Regions from separate parts of the Homo sapiens genome. Here all the other regions are linked to region 1. The links come from fine-mapping of genetic effects on gene expression. A gene starts in region 1. Each other region holds a variant in brackets. All regions are shown on one strand. Distances are from middle to middle.

Region 1 (5,706 bases):
TGTACTCAAGCTCCTGAATTGCTTCTCGGTCTGTAAATCCAAGAGCGAAGGAAGAGGGAGAGTTAGGATGTGGAAGTCTGCCTGGTTCTGCATGGGCCACCGAGGGCCCAGGGAACTACCTCGGGGTCTCCCCCAGACACTGTGGATCTCCTTCAACATATGCAGCACACCGCATGCAGCCCAAGGCCTGGAAACCAGCAGTACCTGCCCTTGAGATGCTGCAGGGGCTGCCCTGGTGTGGACTCACGTGTGCTGTCTGAGATTACCTTCTCTTCTCTGTGCCCAGCAGTGTGCTGAGCAGGCAGGCCAAACCAAAATCCTTAGCCTCAGGCCCACAACTTATTGTGAGTAGGGAAATAGTAGTCTGTAGTCTCTCTTGGACCCTCTCCCTGACTCTAGAAATGTGGAGATTAGGGGTAGAATTATATATATTGGCTTGGTTTTTCTGACAAGATCTTGGCAAAGAAGAAGGGTGTTTCCCCAACTCTTGGGATCTGGAGCATGGGCCCCTCCCACTGTCATGGGCTCTGCCTGCTTCCACTCAGTTGGGCCCAGGCATGGAGTCTTCTCCCAGGCCTCCAGGGGGAGAGGAGCAGCAGCCACTTCTCACTGGTTAACAGCATCTGCACAGCCACCAGGGCACATACCTCCTTTGGCAGCCCTTGAGGGGCTGTGTTATCTCTGGGGCAGGGCTTTCCTTCCCCTGGTGGGTCAGGCCTGGTTGAGCATGGTGGCACTCACCAATGATTTCACATCTTTTGTGAGCATAAATGAGGGCCATGGTGGAGCACAGGGACACGTCTGGGTGATGCCTGATGCTTTCCAGGTCACTGATGGCATCCTGGATGTGCTCTGCAAAGACAGTCCACATAGTTATACTCTCAAGCTCCAGGACTAGAGGACATGAGACTCTGTAGCTGACCCAACAGCTCAGCACTACTACCTGCTGGACTAACTGGTCTGAAAGGTCCCCAGTGACCCAAGTTCCCTGAAGATTGGGGCTCTTTGAAAGAGTTGCTGGTAACATGGTCCAGGCTGTTAGGGGCTGGAAATCTTGGACTTGAAAGGTTCACCCTGTGAGTACTTGTGGGGATATGTGTGAGGCTGCAATTATTAGCTGCGTCAGTTCTGAAGAAGGACCTCAGGCAGGGCATTCTCAGCTACTGCTCAAGAGCCACTGATTACATTTATCCCTCCATGTCCTCAGACATTTGGCCATGGGCTATTCTGCCAGTCCTCAGCCTAGGACCACCTTCTGAATGTCAGCCCATCTGCACCTGCATGGGTCTCACTCCTCTCCCTGTACCTGTACCATACCCACCTGTCCTCACACCTACCTCTTCCCCCTCCTTTGCCTGCATTACCAGTTCTCAGCTTCCAGGCCTGGAATTACTTCAAGAATCATGCAGCTATCTCTCCAACCACTCATTTTACAGAGAGGGAACCCGAGGTGCAGAGCAGGGATAGTCAGCGCTCTGAGGTCTCAAAAGTCAACTAGATATGGATTACGTAGGCCTCTGTGGATTCCCGTGGGAATCCAGCCGCTGAGTGTGAAACTGTTTTTATGGGACCATAACTAGGATACAAGAAGGCATCCAGGTGGAGCCAGAGTGTTAGGGCCCAGCTAGTGCCTGGGGTCACAAGACCAACACTGCCAAGTCCTTACCTTCTTTGAGGACTCCATAGGCTTTAAAGAACTTCAACACAGGGTCATTGCTGAATTTTTCCAGGCCCACAGCTGCAGCCTGCTGCACATGGTGGAAGTACTTTTCCTGGCTATAGTAAATGATCCCAGCCTGTATGAAGGAAGACATAACTGCAATAGCCCAGTCCCTTCTCTGTCTCTGTTCTGTCCCAGATGGGATGAGACCTGCTCCCTTCCCTATCCCCTGCTCCTCCTCAGTTCTGCAAAGGGAAGAGAAAGAGGAAACATTCAGGCCTCATCCTGTCCTCTAACAGCCCTGGGAGCAGCTCCATGCAGTTTTCCCAGGAAAGAGTTTGGAGGTGTTTGTTTGGGGGATTACCAACAGATTCTGGTTCAACTATGATGGGGAATTCAACCAAGGCTTTGTCTTAGGAAGGGAATAAGGGGGGAAAAATGAGGACAAATAATAAGAAAAATTATACGAATTGTAGTTACAAGTTATTGTGGGCTTCATATCCACTATCCTGTGCATGGTCCTCTCAGTATCTTTCACAGCTAAGGAAGCTTAAGCCCATGGAAACTACAGCTTGACAAAGGGGCTGAGATTTTAAAGTTAAGTTTCACTTCCTCTAAGGTTTGTGGGTGCTAGGTTGGGAGCAGATGTGGTTGGACTGTAAACATCCTCATGGGCCATATGAAAGAGCCCAGACACCATCCTAAGGGTAACAGAAAGCAGAATGGTTTTAAGGCGAGGGATGTTTTCAGATGTACATTTTTGCAACAACCACTCTGGCTGCTTTTGCATGTGGGGGGTGTGTGCCGTGGTGGCAGCAGGGACTACTGATGCTGAAAAGAGCCACAGCAGAGAAACCAGATGGGAGGGAGGCTGTTGCAGGCTCTCAGGGGGGAGAGATGGTGCTGGTTCTGGGCTAGAAGATAAAAAGATAAAAAGAAAACCCAGGAGACATCAAGGAGCTGGCATTTCTTGTAGACAGGATTAGAAGATGAGTATAGGGAAGAGGTATGAGTTAAGGCTAGGAGATTAAATGGTGAAGCCATCAACTGGGGTGGGAGGCGCAGGCGAGAGTGAGCTGGGTGGAAGAAGGGATGATGACAAGAAGGGATAATGATAGTGATTGGATGAGCTGGTTTGGGGTAGCTCAAGAAACGGGGATGCTAATTTGGGGCTCAGGGTGCGCAGAAGCCACCGGAGAAGACGCCCTTGCCAGGGGGAGTGGGGCAAGAAAAGGCAGGACCGCCTGATATAACTGAGGACAGCGAAGGGTGGCAGGAGAGTAGCAGGGCAGACGGTCTCTGGGTCAGGGGCGGGGAGTCACGAGGGAGCCCTCGGACAGCGCCCGGGCCACGCACCATAAGGGAGGAGTCATTGCTGCTCATCTCGGGCCGCTCGCGGCTCCGAGTCCGGGTCTGGTGGGGCGGTGCAGAGCGGGATTCCCGAGGCAGGGTCGTGGGCACTCTATCGCGGCGGGCGGTTGAAGGCGTTACAGTCCTTGGAAACCGAGCTGCTAGCCGGTTGCTAGGAGCGTCCAGTGTCTGGAGTGGGAGGAACAAAACGCCTCACGTCACAAGGCGCAGGAATCGAGCGCCGAGAGAGCGAGTCGGTGCTACTGGCGTCGGGTCGGTCCGGGTAGGCGCAGCGGGACTGGACCTGGGTGCCGAGCGGAGCCGCTGCCATGGGCCTGGGCGTCAGCGCTGAGCAGCCCGCAGGCGGCGCCGAGGGCTTCCACCTCCACGGGGTGAGTTGCCGCCGCGGCGCCGGTGACCTTGGCGAGGCGCCCGCAACCCCGCGCCCGGGCGTCCGGTCGCCGGCTGGCTGGCGACTGCGGCGGGGTCCCGGCCCGAGTGTTTCCGCCTGGGTGGCGGGAGGTGCCCCCTGCCCGGTGGGAGCCTCCTGGGAGAGGCGGCCTCGCGGGACTCCCGGACCCTGGCTAGTCCGCGGCCGCGGTCGGGCCCAGCGCCCGCCCCAAGTGCCAGCAGTGCCGGAAGCGGAGCGTTTTCCTGGTCCGGCCGCCGGGAATGGCGCTCCTCCCGGGTGAAGAATGCACCACTACCAGTCGGGACGCACTCGTGCACTTAGCACACATTTACGCTCGCCTGCCGCGGGCCGCTCTCCGTGCTGGGCCTGGGAAGAGAGTCAGCCACGCCGAGGACAGTCCCGGGGGCCGGGGTTAACCGAGTGGACGCAGCTGCGGGGGAGCCCGTCGGCGCGCGTCCTGCCAGTCGTAGGGTCGTAAGGGCTTCCGAGGGTAGAGGACCGGTGCAAACCAGCCACGGGATAGTGGGGAGCGGGAGGGCCGGGAGAGTGCTGCAGAATCCTCGAGGAGAGCGTTTGCAGCTGGGGAGGGTCCCAGCCTTTAGATGCCGCTACATGGAGGTCTGGGCGAGCAGGCTTCCGGAGAGTGGAGACGGAGTGGGGTTCCTAGAACGGAGTGTGCTGTGAGGGTGAGGAGAGGGTCCCGCAGCCGGATGGAGATTTGTGCCTGCGGTGAGGGAAGGGCTATAATGTAGGTGAGAGGGGCTGGGGGTCTCTGACCCCGGAGCGCTGCGGGGAAGAGGCGTCCCTGCACCCCCCCTTTCCCTAGTGAAAGGCAGCTGGATGCAGAGATGAGTGGAGACAGGCAAGCTTGTCGGTTTGTGTGTTTTGAAGGTAGGGTCTGTTGCCAGCTAACCACATGAGAGGGCTAAAAGTTTCTTAACGTGAAAACCAGGCTGGCTTGGAGAACCCAGAGTTGACAGGATTTGTGCTTGGGAATGGGCTTTCTTATGGTGAGACACCAAACAGCAAGCGTGGACAGTGGAATGCATCCAGCCAGGAGCGTCTTCCAACAGGTTTGATTAAAGGCAAAGGAACTCAGGATATTGGCAAGAGGAGGGGTGGGGCGATGATGGGAGCTTCGAAGACGGGAGGGGCCTGCCTGATGGAGAGGGACAAATTGGAGAGGGACCAGGGATCAGAGGTTGTCAGTCACAAAAACAAAGTTTTGAGCTCCTACTCTGGCAGGCAGAATTCTAAGGCTCTAGAGATAAAGCAGTGAACAGAACAAACATGGTCCCTGTTCTGGAGCTGACATTTGGATGATGGTAGGGAAAGAAGGGAAATGAAAAAATACATGGTAGGTGGTAATTACCAGTGATAAAAATAAAGCAGGTTAAGGGGATACAGAATGGTGAGTGGGTGCTATTTTTGATAGAGTGGTCAGGAAGGGCCTCTTCTCAAGTCACATTCGAACAGATGCTTCTGAAGGAAGTAAAGAGTGGACAATACAGATATTTAGGGGAATAGTAGTATTCCAGGCAGAAGGACCAGCTTGTGCAGAGGCCCCGAGGTAGGTTGTGCTTGTGTGTTTGAGGAAATGCCAGGTGAGGCTGGTGTGCTTGGATGGTGTGGCCAGTGTGAGGAGGAGACCAGAGCAGACCGTGTAGGACCTTGCCTGTTGTCCTGAAGATTTAAGATTTTATTCTGAGATGTAAAACCATCAGGAGGTTTTAAATGGAGGAGTGACATGACCTACTTACCTTTAACAACACTGAAGAACAGCTGTGCTGCATTCTAGAAATATTGGCACCTCGCTGCGTGCCCAATACTTTGGAGAAGTCGCTGCCCTCAGCGAGCTTAGAGTAGTGGCAGATTCACCAGGAAACAGCTGTTAGGAGAGGGCAGTGGTTAGGGGGAGGGCTCTGGGTTGGATTTCCTGGGGTCAAATTACTGAATTATTGAGTACTTGGTCTCATTTGTCATTTGAGGTTATTAAAAAGGTTAAATGACACATAAAGCAGGTGAGGTGGTGCCATGCCCTGGCACTCAGCCAACCAGCCCTTAGTAAGTGTAAGTTGTGATCACTGTGAGTTCCATTAGGTTCCCTGATTGGGAAAAATAGGGTGGGAGCATGAGGAAAAGCAGCACTATAGGGCCTTGGGGCAGGCTGTGATGGGAGCCCCTGAGGGAGCTGGATGGCAGGCAGTGGTTTCTGCAGGGGGAGCCGTACAGTGGGCAGCAGCATAGATTATTTCAGCTGCGGAGCCATAGTGAGTAGTGATGA
Region 2 (5,706 bases), 120 kb after region 1:
TGTCTTGGGGAGATTACTACTTTCCTCAATACTTGATCCACATTCCTTGAGGAGTCCCTAAGAAGGTTCAGGCACTGAGAGAGAGACAGCCCTGTCCCTGTGGAAGAAGCTGTAAGCTAGAAATATGGGCCCCAGACATGCTTGTGCCATTAGCCAGCCTTGCAAGATGAGTGAATCCTGTAAAGGACAGGACAGGTGTGTGTGTGTGTGTGTGTGTGTGTGTGTGTGTGTGTGAGAGAGAGAGAGAGAGAGAGAGAGAAAGGCACTGGGAGGGAGAGAAAGGGAGGAAGAAGAAAGAGGAGGGAATAGGGGAGAAAGGAGCGATGAAAAGAGGACAGGACAGGACAGGAAAGAGGAGAGATGGATGAATGCCTGTGATGTTAATTTTCCCATCCTCCCTTCCAAAGATACTCAGCTTCTGTCTTTTACTGCGCATTAGTCACTATGTACTGTGTTTGGGGTGGTTTCACATTAAACACTTGTGTGTGTGTGGTAGGCAGAGCCTTGTGTTTCTCAATGGGATGTGTCTCTACTGGTCTTGCTGTAGTTGTCCAGGTGCGGAAAGAAACGGGTAGGGGTACAAAAATGCAGGGGACTGAATTCCACCTTGACCTGTCAAGGGGAAAGTGGTCTCACAGCTGGAAAATGACATGTGGCTCTATAGATCCTTGCTCCAAGAGACTCAGTACAAACCTCAAACACAAAGCTGTGCTCTGCATGGCCAGGCTGCAAAAATCGCAGGGTTAATTGCAGGACTTCCACTTGGTTGTATCAGTATTGTATGGATCTGCCCCATATTTCAATGCCTCCTTGTCCTTTGTTTGTTCCTCTCCAACATGGTTGATCTCTGGCTCATTCCCCAACTCTACTCCCACTCAATACAACAACAACAACAACAACACACACACACAGAGAGAGAGAGAGAAGGAGGGAGGGAGAGATACTTGCATCTTAAACCTGATTAGCAGCCTGGATTGATTTCTTTTTACATCTTCAGTTTCGGGGTTCCCTCTTCTTTCTTGTGGTCACCTCACTGCATCACCGTTCATAAAGCCTGGTGGGCCACTCAGTATGTAAGGCAGAAGCAGGGTCTGTCCAGCTCAGCTCACACTTCAATGGGGAACACCCAGCTCCACTGAAGTCTCCATTCCATGTGTCTGGAATCATTCCCTTTGATCCATTTGTATCTCTCTGAAACTGATCATTCCACTCCTATTCCTGCATATTCTTCAGTTCCTCTTTATTAGACTGGCCTCCCTGACGCATCTGCTGGCTCTGTCGGCACTTCCTTCTGGCAGCAGTGTGGATGGTGTGGTGACGGTCCATTGAAATGGCCTCTAGTGATTCTCAGCTCCTAGTATTCATGCCCATGTGTAGTCTCCTCCCACAATGAAGGCAGCTGATCTGTATAACTAACAGGATATTGTGCAAATCAAAAAGTGTGACTTCCAAAGCTAGACATTGTGGCTTTTGCCTTACTTTCTTACATCACTTGTATAGGACACTCAAACAGACTGTGGAAAGGTCCCGGTAGGGAGAAATGGCAGTTTCCCACCAATGGCCAGTACAACCTTGCCTCATGAGTGAGCCACCTGCAAAGCAGACCCTTTAGTCCCAACCAAGACCAACTAGCTAACATCTTGACTGCAACCTCAGGAGAGATCATGAGCTGGAGGAACCCAGCTAATCCATTCTGGAATTCATGACCCATAGAAACTGTGAGATGGTAAACACTTATGGCTATTTTAAGCCACTAAGTTTTGAGGTCATTTCTTACACAGCAGTAGATGACTAATACTTTAAACAACATGTCTCTTCTAGTTTTCACCATCCCAGCAAATGGCAAATGCATTTATGCTGTTGTTCAGTCCAAAATCCAAGACTCAGCCTTGATTATACTCTTCCCCTCACAATCCACATCAGCAAATTATGTAAGACAGCTTTTTCTTGAAATGGTTTCACAAATCTATCTGCCTTTCTCCATCTTCACTGCCATAGCTCACACCCAAGCCATGGTCACCTCCAGCCTGCACTCCTGCAACAGTGTCCCCACTGATCTTTTCATTTTTACACCTGTCCCTAACAGTTGATTCTTAAGACAGCCAGCAGGCCGGGTGCGGTGGCTCACGCCTGTAATCCCAGCACTTTGGGAGGCCGAGATGGGTGGATCACGAGGTCAGGAGATCGAGACCATCCTGGCTAACACGGTGAAACCCCGTCTCTACTAAAAATACAAAAAAAAATTAGCCGGGCGTAGTGGCGGGTGCCTGTAGTCCCAGCTACTCGGGAGGCTAAGGCAGGAGAATGGCATAAACCCGGGAGGCAGAGCTTGCAGTGAGCTGAGACTGCGCCACTGCACTCCAGCCTGGGCAACAGAGCAAGACTCTGTCTCAAAAAAAAAAAAAAAAAGACAGCCAGCCAGAAAGACATTTTTTTAAAAAATCCGAATATGTCATCCTCTGTTTAAGCCCTCCTGTGGCTTTCATTGTATCACAAAACTGAAATAGTCTGCTGCAGCCTAGTGACCATACATAATCCAGCCCCTGCCTACATCTCTGCCTCATCTCCTACTATGCTTGCTCATTCACTCAACTCTAGTCACACTGGCCTCCTCACTGCCCTTGAATGTGTTTCTGAGTCAAGGTCTTTGCATTTGCTCTTATTTTCTTGGAATGTTCCCTCCCCCAGACTTTCGCGTGCCTTCATTGAAAGCTCAACACGAATTTCAGCCAGGCACAGTGGCTCACGCCTGTAATCCCAGCACGTTGGGAGGCCAAGGTGGGCGGATCACCTGAGGGCAGGAGTTTGAGACCAGCCTGGCCAACATGGTGAAACCCCGTCTCTACTAAAAATACAAAAATTAGCCGGGCATGGTGGCAGGTACCTGTAATCCCAGCTACTTGGGAGGCTGAGGCTGGAGAATTGTTTGAACCTGAGAAGCAGAGGTTGTAGTGAGCCAAGATCATGACATTGCACTCCAGCCTGGGGGACAGGAGTGTGGCTTTGTCTCAAAAAAAAAAAAGCTCAGCACAAATTTCACCTCCTCAGAAAGGCTTTCCTTGACAATTCAATATCAATATCTCCCTTTTACCATCTACCCCCTTGTCCTCACCACTAAGGTGCCATATTGGATTTAGGGTTCTTGGGTTGCAAACAACAGAAACCAGCTCTTTCTTATTTAAACTAAAATAACAATTATGGGAAGGTAGGGGGAGCTCTTTAGATTGAATGCAATGTTGAAGAGCCAGAAGGAGGCAGATACTAGCAGCTCTGAACATGTTGGTCTCCAGATGAATAGGGCACCTTCCTCAGTGGAGGCACCCATTGAAGAATGAGTACATTCCTAGAGAATGTGGTCTAAGAGGATTATGAGTGAAAAGGACCTGATGGTCATGGAGCAAGACTGCTCTGGGATTCCTCCTTTCCTGGTGGTTGCAGAGAAGGAACAGTGGGAAAGAGGGAGGCTGTAGAAGGATGACTGGTGT[G/A]GAAACTTTCCCAAAGCAATGGGACTAAAAAGATTTAGAAATGTGATCAGCAGGACTTCATTTTACCCTGTTCTCCTGGGAACAAATCAATGAGGTGATCATTATCTTCACCAGAGGCCCATTTAGAAATTGAACATTTTTAAAAGCACACAGAACAGAAGGATTTGTAATGTGTAAGTTTATCTCTAAGTAATTTCTCTCTCTAACTTCCTGGTGGATGAAACCCAACACAAGTTAGCTTAAGCAAAAAAGGTCTTTGTGTTTTTTGTTTTTTAAATAGAGATGGATAGTTCTTTCGTAAAACCATAGGACTGTCATGATGGTCAAAGGACTAGAACCAGAAACTTAAGAGTCATTAGCAACTCAAAGAGATTCTTTCTTTTTTGGATTTTCTTTCAAGCTCCCTTATGGGGTAGAGGTTGTCATTAACTTATAGATGAGGAAACTGAGACGCAGAGGTTAAGTAACTTGCCTTAGGGTCACACTTGGCTTTACCTTAATGATAGGAGGGTCCTTGTTTGTCTTGAGGGTTTCAGAATTTCCTTGTTCATTTCTCTATTACTTTCTTTCCCCATTCAAGTGAGACTCAAGTTGCTGACACAGGGGAGGTCAGGCCACAGAGGACCCAGTGTCTATTGAAACTCTATTTTATAGGGCACAGTGAGCACCCTTCCTCAGCTCCCAAAGCCTGTTCTTTCTAGAAGCCTTAACTTAACTAGGGGAGTTCAAAGTCATGCACCTTTTGCCTAGGTCTGAATATTGAAGAATGGCCTGACCACTCTGGTGAAGGTGACATGGAGCAAAAAACATCAAAGCTCAGGGGTGAAGAGGAATCATGAAGGCCATCTAATGCAGGGGCCACAAACCCACACGCAGCAGGAACCACTCAGGTACTATAAAGGAAATAAGTAGCACAGTAAGAAGAGTGGTGAGGTCTGTGGCTAATGGTCTCATCTAAAACAGCCTTCCCTATTCAGCTCTGGCTTCTTGCTGACATTTTGGACTCATACTCAACATTGTTAGATTTTCTGAGTTTTCAAGAGAAGCCAGAAGTTTTCCCCGCTACTTTGTATTGTTGTGAAAATTAAATGAGATAACTCACATAAGTTGATTGGAAGATGTGTCTGGCATATGGGGTAAGCTTTCAGTAAGTGTTCATGGCTATAATAACATTTCGCAGATGTGGAAACCAAGGCCCAAAATGGTCTCCCCCAAGATCACATTTATTGGAAGATGTTACATGACAGCCCAGGATCCTGACCCTGGGTCCACAGTTCTTCCTTCCTGGTTTTCCTTTCCTGACCCCCACCCCATCCTTGAGCCATCACCATTGTCACTGTGTAGCATGACACATTTTAACTAACTATATGCTGCTTCACCACTGTATCTTTCATATATTATGTCTGCTGATTCCCTACTTTCAGAGAAATTTTCCTCCCTTAGTAAATGAAACCTATGTCAAAGCTTGTTCCAGTAAAACAATCCACTGGGTTGTTCGTATAAAAGCAATAGCTCTGAAGCAGCTCCCCACCCTGCCTTATTAGCTCGGCAGGGCTGTATTACATAATCTCAGACCTTTCCATTTAAGTCAGGGGCTCACCCACTGTTTACCCAGGGCCCATTAAACCATTAAGAAAAAAGGATGCCTTAGTGGGCCAGGAAGACTTGTGCACTTTGTTGAGAATGAAGCTAATTTCCTCTTGCTCTGTGGAAACAAATGCGCTTTACACCCAGTAAAAGTTCCAGGAATTCTGCATCCTGTAGTGGTCCAGATGTGGTCCCACAGAGTAGGCAGCAGGGACTGTCATTTCCCCCTTAGTACTCCCAGTTCCAAACAGGCCAGGGTTGGCCCAAGTTGGTACTTTCATCTTTTGCTCAATCCCACAGTTCTAAGTTAATGCCATCTCCTTTTGCACTACGTGTCAGCTTCATTCGGCTCACTGGAACACCTGAGGCTGGATGGGGCCACACTTGTCCCTTGTGGTTTTGTTTGTCTGTTTTTGTTTTTTTCTTTTTGCTTTTTGTTTTGTTTTTTTTTTTTGAGACAGAGTCTCACTCTGTTGCTCAGGCTGGAGCACAGTGGCATGACCTTGGGATCTTGGCTCACTGCAACCTCTGCCTCCTGGGTTCAAGTGATTCTCATGTCTCAGTCTCCTGAGTAGCTGGGACTACAGGTGCCTGCCACCATGCCCGGCTAATTTTTGTATTTTTAATAGAACAG
Region 3 (5,706 bases), 310 kb before region 1:
AGAGAGGAGAAAGAGAGAAACAGCTTATACTATTATTTCTGCTTATCAGAGACTTTTAGTACTTTCACTAATTTGCTACTGCTAACTAAAAGGCAGAGCAAGGTGTACAAGATGGAACATGAAGGCAGACTAGGAGCGTGACCACTGAAGCACAGCCACAGCATCACAGGGAGACGGTTAGGCCTCCGGATAACTGCAGGCAGGCCTGCTTCCACAAGAGGTGGAGGAGTAGAGTCTTCTCTAAACTCCCCTGGGGAAAGGGAGACTCCCTTTCCCGGTCTGCTAAGTAGCGGGTGTTTTTCCTTGACACTGAGGCTACCACTAGACTACAGTTCACTTGGCAACAGGAGTCTTCCCAGACGCTGGCGTTACCGCTAGACCAAGGAGCCCTCTGGTGGCCCTGTCTGGGCATAACAGAAGGCTCGCACTCTTGTCTTCTGGTCACGTCTCACTATGTCCCCTCAGCTCCTATCTCTGTACGGCCTGGTTTTTCCTAGGTTATGATTATAGAGCGAGGATTATTATAATATTGGAATAAAGAGTAATTGCTACAAACTAATGATTAATGATATTCATATATAATCATATCTAAGATCTATATCTGGTATAACTATTCTTATTTTATATTTTATTATACTGGAACAGCTCACATCCTTGGTCTCTTGCCTTGGCACCTGGGTGGCTTGCTGCCCACAGGTTATGGCTATGTTTTTGTAGGATTTTATATGTGATTGCGAAACCATTTGACGTTATCTGGTGAAACTAGAGTTTAAAACCGACAGGGGAAAACTTTGCACAAGGATCTATCAAAAATGTTCCAAATGGTGGGCCACAGTGGCTCATGCCTATAGTCCCAGGCTGAAACAGAAAGGTCACTTGAGCTCAGGAGTTTGAGACCAGCCTGGGCAATATAGTGAACCCTCCTCTCTACAAAAAAAAAATTTTTTAATTGGCTGAGCATGGTGACACGCACCTGTAATCCCAGCTACTTGAAAGACTGAGGTGGGAGGATCGTTTGAGCCCAGTAGGTAAAGGCTGCAGAGAGCCATGATCACACCACTGCACTCCAGCCTGGGCAACAGAGACTCTGTCTCAAAAAAGAAAACAAAAAGCAGAGACAATATTGAGGGAAAGAAGCAGATCACACAGAAGACGTGCTAAGATTCCATTTATGGGAAGCTCAAAAACAGGAAAATTAAATAATTCATGATTAAAAGCACAAACGTAAGTGGGGAAACAATAAAGTCAACCAGTTTATCACAGGAGCAGGAGCTCTCTGACCTGAGAGGAGCAGGGAGGGACACACAGATGCTTTCTCTGGTCCCGGCACTTTTCCCTTTCATAACCTGCATCACAGTTGCAGAGGCTTTAACTTGATTCTTACTCTTTAAGAATGCATGGATATGTCTCTTAAACTATCTGCATGTATGATCCATTTTACATAAAAATTATTTTTAAAGTAAGTACTAAGGAAAGACAATGCAATGCATACGAGCAGTATTCACTACATGCCAAACCCAGACTAATTGCTGTGCAGGATGATCTCAATGAATCACAGCAGCCCACAATCATCCCATTTGATGGTGAGGCCACTTGGGCTAGAGACATAGTCCCTTGCCCAGAACCACACACTAGGAGTGGCCCAAGCAGGGCTGTCATCACCCCAGTATGTCCAATTCTGCAGCCCACACTATCCACCTCACTATGCAGCCCATCATCTCAATGGTGACAGTGGGCCAGTCCCTTCACAGGACAACTGGTTATGCAAAGGTGTCCTTGGTGCTGGGCCATGGCGCAGACCAGACCCAGTCCCAACTACACCAACTAGCACACCAGGAGACCACACCCAAGCTGACCTCAGGGAGTGCAGTGCATTCTCAAAACACTATGTGAAGCTGTTGTCTTTGACCAAGCAGGGAACTTGATCAAACACCCAAGTTGAGAGCAGGTGATGTGGCCACCCGTTAATCATGCTGATGTGCTCCTGAACAACAAGCAAGAGTGGGCACCTTGAATCCTGTTGGGAGCTTCAGGTTTGCCAAATGAAACTTACCTCTCCCACTTTTTTTGAATATTAACATTAAGTCTCTTGATTTATCCTTTTTTTTTTTTTTTTTTTGAGTCAGTTTTGCTCTGTTGCCTAGGCTGGAGTGTGGTGGCACTCACAACTCACTGCTGCCTCCAACTCCTGGGCCCAAGTGATCCTCCTGCCTCAGGCCCCCAAGTAGCTGGGAACCAGGTGCACACCACCACACCCAGCTAATTTTTAAAATTTTTTGTAGACATGGGGTCTTGCTATGTTGCCCAGTCTGGTCTTAAACTCCAGGCCTCAAGTGATCCTCTTACCTCAGCCTCCCAAAGTGCTGGGATTACAAACATGAGCTACTGCACTCAGCCTCCGATTTATTGATTGATTGATTTTTTTGAGACAGTTTTGCTCTGTTGCCCAGGCTGGAGTGCAATGGCAGGATCTCGGCTCACTGCAAACTCCACCTCCCAGATTTAAGCGATTCTCCTGCCTCAGCTTCCTGAGTAGCTGGGATTACAGGCACACACCACCAGGCCTGGCTAATTTTTTGTATTTTTAGTAGAGATGGGGTTTCTCCATTTTGGCCAGGTTGGTCTCAAACTCCTGTCCTCAGGTGACCCGCCCACCTCGGTCTCCCAAAGTGCTGAGATTACAGGCATGAGCCACCTGGCCCTCAGATTTATTCTTAACTTTTTCTTTTCACTCAGTACTTACTAGCATTTACCAAGTGCCAGCTTTTGTGATAGGCTGATTCCAATGAGGATGCTCAGATTTGCCCTCATACTAGGAATGTACTAGAAAAAATGTGTTTATTGCACACAGTCCTAAGAAAGGAGTCCCTAAGCTACTTAGGAAAGTAGAGGAAAACTAGAGTTCTGTGTGGGATTCAGTTTCTATTAAGCATAGAAGACAAACTGCCCAAAAGTGTATGAAGAGCTTGAAGTTGTGAACAAGTAAAATATTTAGAGCAAGCTACATTTGTAAGATCAGGCTGAACAAGGAAATTGAATAACTTACTGAGAGAAATGCAATTCCTGTGTAGAAGGAAATGGAGATGTGCCAGGGCAAGAAGGGAGGCGGCTCACAGGGCCAAAGCAAGAGCAGTGCCTAGCAGTGAAGGAGGCAACGGCTTCTCCCTCACCTTAAAAATGGCCTCATGCTAGGAATTGAGTCAGGAAGACTCAATTCTGCAAACACCACTGGGGGTAAGTTACTAGTAGCAGGCTGCTGAACACCCAGGGGGCACAGATTGTCACTGATTCAGCAGTGCTTATGAGCTGCCCTACATCAGGTGGGCACCACCAGGCAAGAGAAAACTGTTTGAACTGGCTAGTTTAAGATGGCTATTCCAGATGGTGACAGCTTGGGGACACTGACTCTGTGGCCATGGGCAGCTGCTGGGTCCCATGAGAGCATGGTGATCCCAAACCTGAGCCAGAATCCACTAGCAGTTGGTGATATGGTACAGGGCCAGGGGAGTGGAGTTGGGGAGAGGATCCTATTTTCAGATATACAAGGTTATAAAAAGGTTAAGGCCTGTCAGGGAAGGCTAACCCCAGCTGAGTGGGTCTGAGAGAAATCCCCTCTAGTATTTGCTGGCTTCCACTTAGCTGAACATGAATGAACCCTGCCAAGGGAGACTACCTCCTCCCTAACCTCAGAATC[T/C]AGAAAAAGAGACTTTCTGGAACTGCTTTGAGAATGCTACCAAGGTCTCCTGATTGGAGGTGCTTGGCACTAGGACACAAGTCTATGGAGAGGCTGGGTTTGCATGGGACCCCAGTAAGATGGGGTAATCCTGGAGGTTGCTGGATAGTCACAACGGATGTTTTCCACAGTATCTTCAAGTGTCCAGAAATGCCAAGGTTCTCTGTTCGCTGAACAGACTCCACCCAGAACCCGCTCATAAATGAGCTTAGTATACCTTACTCCAGGCTCACACCACCTCGCAATGCTTCTCCAACTCCCCTGTTGACCAGTAGCCTTCTGGTAAACTGTCCCTGCTTCCCACCATCCTGATTCCAGCAATCTCTACCAGTGTTGCTAACCACTTGCAACTTCAGGATCCATAAATCTCACTGAATGCCATTCAACTTGGAGACATTATAGGGCAGATTTTCCCAGCCTCGCTTACAGCCATAAGCAGGCTTCCCATGAAGACAATGCTTGAGGCTGCAGTGTTCCCATTGCCTCAGCACCACCGGAAGGAGCCCTAGGAATGTGGTCACATGTACATGTATTTTGTAAATTTTCCAAGAGAATGTATGAATCCATGTAAATCAGTTCAGGCCATCTCAAAATCTGCATTCAATCCAATCTATGGAAATGTCTCTATAATCTTTTTGAGACAGGGCCTCACTTCGTCACCCAGGCTAGAGTATACAGGGGCTCAATCACAGCTCACTGCAGCCTCCAACTCCTGGCCTCAGGTGATTCTCCCACCTCAGTCTCCTGTGTAGCTGAGGTACTACAGGAGTATGCCATCACACCCTGCCAATTTTTTGTATCTTTTGGAGAGAGATGGGGTTTTACCACATTGCCCAGGCTGGTCCTGAACTCCTGAGCTCAAGCAATCGCTTTGCCTCTGCCTCCCAAAGTGCTGGGATCATGGGTGAGCCAACATGACAGCCACGAGTATTTTTTTAATAGGCAATGAAAATCTTGAAATCCGTTTAGGATGAAGCCACCAGCATTAATACATAAAAAACAAATATGGTCAGGCTCAGGCCTGTAATCCCAGCATTTTGGGGCGGGTCACATGAGGCCAGGAGTTGGAGACCAGCCTGGCAGAACCATCTCTACTACAAATACAAAAATTAGCTAGGTGTGGCAGTGCACACCTGAAATCCCAGCTACGAAGGAGCCTGAGGCACAAGAATCGCTTGAACCCAGGAGGCAGAGGTTGCAGTGAACTGAGATCACGCCACTGTACTCCAGCCTGGGCAACAGGGAAAGACTGTCTCCCCAACCCCCTCCCCGGCAAAGACAAATATGGAGAACATCACATTTTTAAATACATACATACCTCTCCTCTCCCAGAACCTGTAGGCAAGCTGACAAGAGGGGCAATTAATGTCTCTCAATGTGGGGAAGGACCATCGCCTCTCCAGGGCTTCCAGGAATAGTTAACCTAAGTGACAGGAAGACTCTCAAAAATAAAAACCTAAGCTCTATAGAACTTACCTACGCAAATGGTAATAAAAGCAAGATCATCAGGGCCTCGGAAAAGTATTCCTGAGGTTACCAACTAAGTATGTGTAACCACTTACATCTATTTTCACAGCACACATGTTCTCCACACAGGAAGGAAGCTCAGGGAAATTCTGAAGTGAAAAGCAATATACACTATCTACAGTGGGCTTTAGAAGTACAACTCATGTCGAGACATGTATTTATTATTATGCTTTGATATGCAATCCCAGGTATTCTGATCTGGAGTAAAAAGCAAACTAAATGAAGACAACTTTTAGAAACTGATGTTTATTTTCCATCAACCATTTTTCCATGCTGCTTAAGAGCCTATGCAAGAACAGCTTAAGACCAGTCAGTGGTTGCTCCTACCCATTCAGTGGCCTGAGCAGTGGGAGCTGCAGACCAGTCTTCCGTGGCAGGCTGAGCGCTCCAGTCTTCTGTTAAGAGAATACCAAAAAAAGCCATCAGCTCTGTCCTCAATGTAGTAT
Region 4 (5,706 bases), 830 kb after region 1:
AGAATGGGACTGGTGACTTTATAACAAGAGGAAGAAAGACAAGCTAGCTTGCTCGGTTCCCTCACCTGTGCCCCCTTGGGAGACTGCAGAGTTCCCAACAGCAAGAAGGCCCTTACCAGATGTATTCCCTAAACCTTGGACTTCCCAGCCTCCAGAACTGTAAGAAATAAATTTCTTTTCTTTATAAATAACTCAGTTTCAAGCAGTCTGTTATAAGCAACAGAAAATGGACTAACACAGACACTTAAGACACAAAAAAAAATTAAAAGAATTTCATATATTTGAAAAAAAATGAAGTATTGATCACAGGGAAACCTACTTACAGCTCTTTTGCAGTTTCCTATGGCTCAATCTTCACTTGTTTGGGGGCAGGGCACTGCAATCTTATTGGTATCTGGGGCATCAGATCCTTCCTCTTTCACCAGACCTCCCTCGGGGTGTCTGCAGGTCACCTCAGTGGTTGGTCCTAGGCCCCTCATCCCCCCTAGAGTTCCCCACTCTTGAGCAGCAGCACTCTGGGGGTCAAAGGGACCAAGCAGACAGCACAGTGAGCACCCAGAAGCCATCAGTGAGACTGAAGAGCAGGGTGGGAGCACCCCTTTGTTTTGGTTTGTTTTGGTTACATAAGATCCCAGAACTCGGCTGGGCATGGTGGCTCACGCCTGTAATCCCAGCACTTTGGGAGGCTGAGGCAGACGGATCACCTGAGGTCAGGAGTTCAAGACCAGCCTGGCCAACATGGCAAAACCCTGTCTCTACTAAAAATACAAAAATTAGCCTGGCGCAGTGGCGCACACCTGTAATCCCAGTTACTCGGGAAGCTGAGGCAAGAGAATCGCTTGAACCCAGGAGGCAGAAGTTGCGGTGAGCAGAGAATTGCACCACTGCACTCCAGCCTGGGTGACAAACTGAGACTCCTTTTCAAAAAAAAAAAAAAAGATCCCAGAACTCTCTGGGTTGAGAAGAGCCCCAATAACAGCTGAGATGAATTTCCAATCAGCTCAGCAAGATGGAGGCTCATAGGCTAAAGAAACATTCTGTTGCCTGCAGATATGAGTTTACAGAACAAATATTCATACCAGCTACAAATGTTGATTGCCTTTGTTAAAAATTTAGGAGGTCATTTTTGTTTCCCTTGGTTACAGGTTGAGAAAACTAGTAAATATGAGGGTCAGATTGTTTCTAGGCAGAAAGGGGCTTGCTGTTCAATGTGCTAGAAGCCAATATGATGACACCGGGTTTTTGAGAAAAGAAAAGCTTGTAATTATAGGCCGGCCGACACGGAGACAGGAGTCCAGCTTGAATCTGTCTCCCTGGGCTGGTGCTAAGGCAGTGTTTTTATTAGAAAAGGTGTCGGGATTCTGAGATTAGCAGGTGATTAGTGGAAGGAAAGAGGAGGCCTGGAAAGTCCTCCAGCATGCGCAGTTCTCTTCATGACACCTCATAGATCACATGGGCAGGTACGGGGGGAGTGAGTATGAAACACGCAGTGGAAATTCAGGCTGTGATGTCAGCAAGCAGGTACTGCACAGACTCTAGTTGGCCACATTGGTTCCAACCTATTTTAGCCAGCTTTGTTGTCTTACAAGTGGAGGGACTTTCAGCATCTCAGCAAGTTGTTTCTTTGCTTACCTACCATCCTGCAAACTCAAGAATTTCTGTTAGTCATTGGTGTCTTTAACTGTTTGGGGCACAGTTTCGCTTTCACACACCTGGACTAAATGTTTAGGACTGATAGTCACCATTGCCGTAACCTTTGAGGAGCAAAATCAAGGAGATACACAACCAGGGTCCAGTGAAGCTGCATATCTTCTCCTTCAGAGTCCCAGAGGCCTCAGCAGCCAACCTCCCATCAGTGACTGCTAAAGGACACTTACCCATTCATCAGAGCAAACCACAGGACACTTTTAAATACACACAGAAAAAAAAAAAAATCTTTCTCCCCAACCAACCATAATCCCCCCAAAAAGGAAAGAAAAAGTCTCCAGGGACCAGGCATGGTGGCTCATGCCTGTAATCCCAATACTTTGGGAGGCCGAGGTGGGCGGATCACGAGTTCAGGAGTTTGAGACCAGCCTGGCCAACTTGGCAAAACCCCATCTCTACCAAAAATACAAAAATTAGCCAGTCTTGGCCATTCAGGTCTCTTCCTGGGAATGACAATCATTCCGTCTTAAAGGGAGCAAGTGTCCATATCTTAGAGGAGGAAACTGCCTTTAGCTGGGAAATGGCCCTTTCCCCACTTCTATCTGGTTTTCCGCACCCCTTGGCAGTTTCAGCCTGAGAGACACATTGTGCCCAGAAAGACTTGCTAGTATTCCCCAAGAGGATGCCATGAATGGGCACACAGTAGGAAGCTAAATAGAGCTTTTGTCTAGCACTTCAAAGCTGAGAATCGTGAGTGAGGAATATCCATGTGTTTGGAAGACAGGTGCTGAACACTTCCATGCTGGGTTTACAGGAAACTGGTCCAGCATCTACGCCCAACCCCGAACCAGCCATGCAGGAGAAGGTGAGCAAGCTGGGGTGCCTGTGAGAAGAGAGACTGAAACCTTCTCCCTAGTGGGAGGTTAGCTGGGGCAAGGCAGGGGCAGTGGCCAGGCAAGCTCTTTTTCTATCTACCATTTGGTGACACAATGATATATGGTGTTCTTGCAGGCTAAGGAGGTGCTGAGGAAGGCAGTCCGGCTTGAGGTCTCTTTATGGGCGCCCATCTAAGAAGGCCATCTTTTTTTTTTTTTTTTTTTTTTGAGATAGAGTCTCTTTCTGTTGCCCAGGTTGAAGTGCAGTGGTGCGATCTTGGCTCACTGCAAACTCCGCCTCCCAGGTTCAAGCGATTCTCCTGCCTCAGCCTCCCAAGTAGCTGGGATTACAGGCATGCACCACCATATAGGGCTAATTTTTGTATTTTTAGTAGAGACAGGGTTTTGCCATGCCAGCCAGGCTGGTCTCAAATTCCTGACCTCAGGTAATCCGCCCGCCTCAGCCTCCCAAAGTGCTGGGATTACAGGCATGAACCACCACGCCCAGCCAAGAAGGCCATCTTGGTTGGGTCAGGGGCTGCCAGCTGTAGGACAGGTTGTAGGAGCAATGCTGGGTGGGGCTGGAGAAGGGTCCCAAGAGGAGCTGGGAGTGCATTGGGAGCATATTG[C/T]TCATTCTAAGGAACAATACCAAGGCCTGAGAAGATCTCTGAGAAGCCCAAGAAGATGGCCCGTGGAAAAGGCAGCTTTCAGAAGCCTGACAAAACACACCAACTGGCATTAGCCAATGTGCACCAGAAAGAACTGCAACCAGCAGCAGCTCGGTGAAAAGACCTCTACCCTTTCCCTCACCCTGCATGGGCCCTGGAAGGTCCAGAAGCAGCTGAGCATGAGCAGGAGGAGGCGGGGTGAGGCGGGGAGCAGAACAAACCTCCTTTCCTTCCCCAAGCTGGTCCCTGAGCCACACATAGGTTAGGCATGAGCTGAGTGTAGGGCGGGGGTTGGGCCATCTTTGAAGTGAACACAAGGTGGAAGTTTTGATTTAGGCTGAACTGAATCTTCTCTCTGTATGACCCAGTGACCTATGGGGCCATACGTTAGCCAGAGGAATCTGGTCCATCCGCTAGAAGGAATCATAACCTTCCTTTTATCCACAGCATTTTCATCCACCTGCCTGGGTAGAGTCCACAACTTCACATTTGTTTCCTCTCCCCTCCTGTTCCCACAAATTGGAAAGGGCTTACCTTGTGTTCTGTTCTGAACATCACTGTGTTTTGAGGGCAGGGGACTCCAGATTGAGGAGATCAAGAGAGCCATACCCCATGAAGATTGTTAGAGGACAAGTTAATTCCAAGACATACCCAAGATCCTAACCCAGACAGAGTATTGGGGGCAGGGCTCTGGAGATGAGAAAGGTGAAGGAGGCCGGGAGGTCCTGTCTCAGATGGTGGTTCCCAGTCTGGGATTGGACTCGGCAGGAGGTGACAGCCATGGGCCAGATTGTGGTGTCCTGCCTCCATAAGCAAGGCTGGTCTTGCCCTGTGTCCCTGTGGGTCCTGGCCATATCCAAGGAGGTGTTTAGGCAGCTCCCTGCTGCTGATGGTCCAGCTCTTAGAGACCTCAATCAGAAGTATGTGCTGCTCACAAAGGCCACTCCCGGGCTGGAAGTTCTTCCCTTGGCCTCTGTTTCCTTCTCTGAGGGCACTGATTTGGGGGACCTAGAGGGAGCAGAAGGCTGTCATTGGCTGCCCAGGAATTGGTCCCATGACAGTGTCCTCACCACCTCCCTCCTCAAAGTAAGGGGAATCTGAACTAAAGCCAGCCAGATGTCTGTGGTTCTGGAGGACCCCATATTAGCCTCTAGGCAACAGTGGACGAGTGATGAGGTGGAGGCCTGGGCATATAGAGTGCGTGGCCAATGTGAGACCCAAGTCGTGGTTTCAGTGCAAGCAAGCAGCTCACCGTGGGTGAGGCCCCAGCTCCAGGTCCTGGAGGGTGTCTTTCAGGCCCTGGCCATGCGTCTCTGGCAGCAGGGTGCACAGCAGGCCGGCCACGATGGGGAGGCTGCCGTAGATGAGCATGGGGAGGGCAGCGTGGTACTCTCCCAGCAGGATCACAAGTGGTGTGAGGATGCCCCCGATCCGTGAGAAGATGCCCACCAGCCCCATGCCTGTCTGCCTGGGGGAAGACCAGGGCAAGCTAAGTAGACCTGGGCCCAACTCTGGGCCTCAGCTTCACCCTAGTATATTTCCTCGGGAGAGTCCAGACCTCAAAGGTCTGCAGGGTCTCCAGCCTCACCCAGCCCAGCCAGCGTTCCTGCTCTCTGCTCCTGCCTCCAACCCTGCTCCCTGCCTGCTACACCCCTGCTCGCCTGTCAAGTCTCAGGTCAGAGGCTGCACATCCTTACCACTCTTCCACCCCAAGTGCTCCTTCTCTGTGGCCATTCATTCTTAGATGTGTCCCATATTCCTGTCCTGACCGCCAGGGCATGGCCTACTTGCCTGTCTGTCCTCCACCATTCTGGGGACAACTTGAGGGCTTGGGCTAGATTTCTAGTTGTCCTGGACCCTGCCCAGCACTGCTGCCCCAGAGCCAGCCCTGTCAGCTATTTGTGGAATGGGGTGAGGGCCGAGGAGGGACAGCCAAATCAGCATCTCAGTAGCAGAGGAGCAGGAGTCACACTGCAGCTCTTACCGGAGGATGGTGGGGAAAAGCTCGGCAGAGTACACATAGGAGATGGTAAAGGCAGCAGCTGTGGCCATCTTCCCCACCACAGCCAGCATGGTGACCACCACGGGCAGATCTGGCAGAGGGTAGACAGCCCCATCACCTGGGCCCTGACGCCGGTCCCATCCACTGGAACTCCCCACCCCTTCTGTACCCAAACCCCCGGGAAGCCTTTACTCCTGGAAGCAGAACAATGGCCACTGGTCTAGCCCCTGGCAGCCGGTGGGTGAGGGGGCATGCGGGTGAGGGATAGCCAGCCCTGATACCTGCTGGGATGAAGATGATGATGATACACATCAGGCCACCCAAGACCAAGGTCCCCAACTGGCTCCACTTGCGGCCAAACCTCTGCATCATGAAGATGCTGGAACAGCGGGCAGGCACCTCAACAGCTCCAAAGATGAGCTGCGTCAGATAGACGTCCAGGCCGAAGTCCCCCACTTGGAGGCTCAGGCCGTAGTACCCCAGACTGTCCACAAACCTACAAGGTAATGAAGGG

Alleles and levels. Positions count from the first base shown, and alleles are read on the strand shown. Sizes are in standard deviations (SD) of each study's normalised expression. Not every link is listed here.
For the expression in neutrophils of the gene that starts at base 3,254 in region 1, T is the high allele of the variant in region 3 and C is the other (large effect, 1.6 SD a copy in BLUEPRINT).

What was found. PIP is the estimated chance that this variant, and not a neighbour inherited with it, causes the effect. A credible set is the group of variants that fine-mapping cannot tell apart.
Region 2: its variant is the best candidate, but not a certain one, in a credible set for the expression of GORASP1 in tibial nerve (GTEx, PIP 0.54).
Region 3: its variant is the best candidate, but not a certain one, in a credible set for the expression of GORASP1 in neutrophils (BLUEPRINT, PIP 0.72).
Region 4: its variant is the best candidate, but not a certain one, in a credible set for the expression of GORASP1 in liver (GTEx, PIP 0.88).

Annotation. Positions count from the first base shown.
Region 1 is chr3:39,105,175-39,110,880 of GRCh38, reverse strand. It overlaps GORASP1 (golgi reassembly stacking protein 1), which reads left to right and starts at 3,254. Exons shown (of 9, transcript NM_031899.4): 1 at 3,254-3,402. The coding sequence starts at 3,340. TTC21A (tetratricopeptide repeat domain 21A) reads right to left here and starts at 3,201. Exons shown (of 29, transcript NM_001366900.1): 1 at 3,017-3,201; 2 at 1,667-1,796; 3 at 742-852; 4 at 1-30. The coding sequence starts at 3,043. RefSeq lists a silencer at 3,305-3,624.
Region 2 is chr3:38,981,832-38,987,537 of GRCh38, reverse strand. The region is part of intron 2 of SCN11A (sodium voltage-gated channel alpha subunit 11); the gene reads left to right. Among named protein-coding and RNA genes, the nearest start is that of SCN11A, 67 kb to the left of the region's middle. The variant G/A (reference allele first, on the strand shown) is at 3,486.
Region 3 is chr3:39,412,223-39,417,928 of GRCh38, reverse strand. It overlaps RPSA (ribosomal protein SA), which reads right to left. Exons shown (of 7, transcript NM_002295.6): 7 at 5,387-5,655. The coding sequence ends at 5,561. Among named protein-coding and RNA genes, the nearest start is that of SNORA62, 4.0 kb to the right of the region's middle. The variant T/C (reference allele first, on the strand shown) is at 3,695.
Region 4 is chr3:38,275,864-38,281,569 of GRCh38, reverse strand. It overlaps SLC22A13 (solute carrier family 22 member 13), which reads right to left. Exons shown (of 10, transcript NM_004256.4): 7 at 5,474-5,688; 8 at 5,175-5,283; 9 at 4,443-4,658; 10 at 2,813-4,198. The coding sequence ends at 4,105. It also overlaps a transcript of SLC22A14 not described here. Among named protein-coding and RNA genes, the nearest start is that of SLC22A14, 3.6 kb to the left of the region's middle. The variant C/T (reference allele first, on the strand shown) is at 3,152.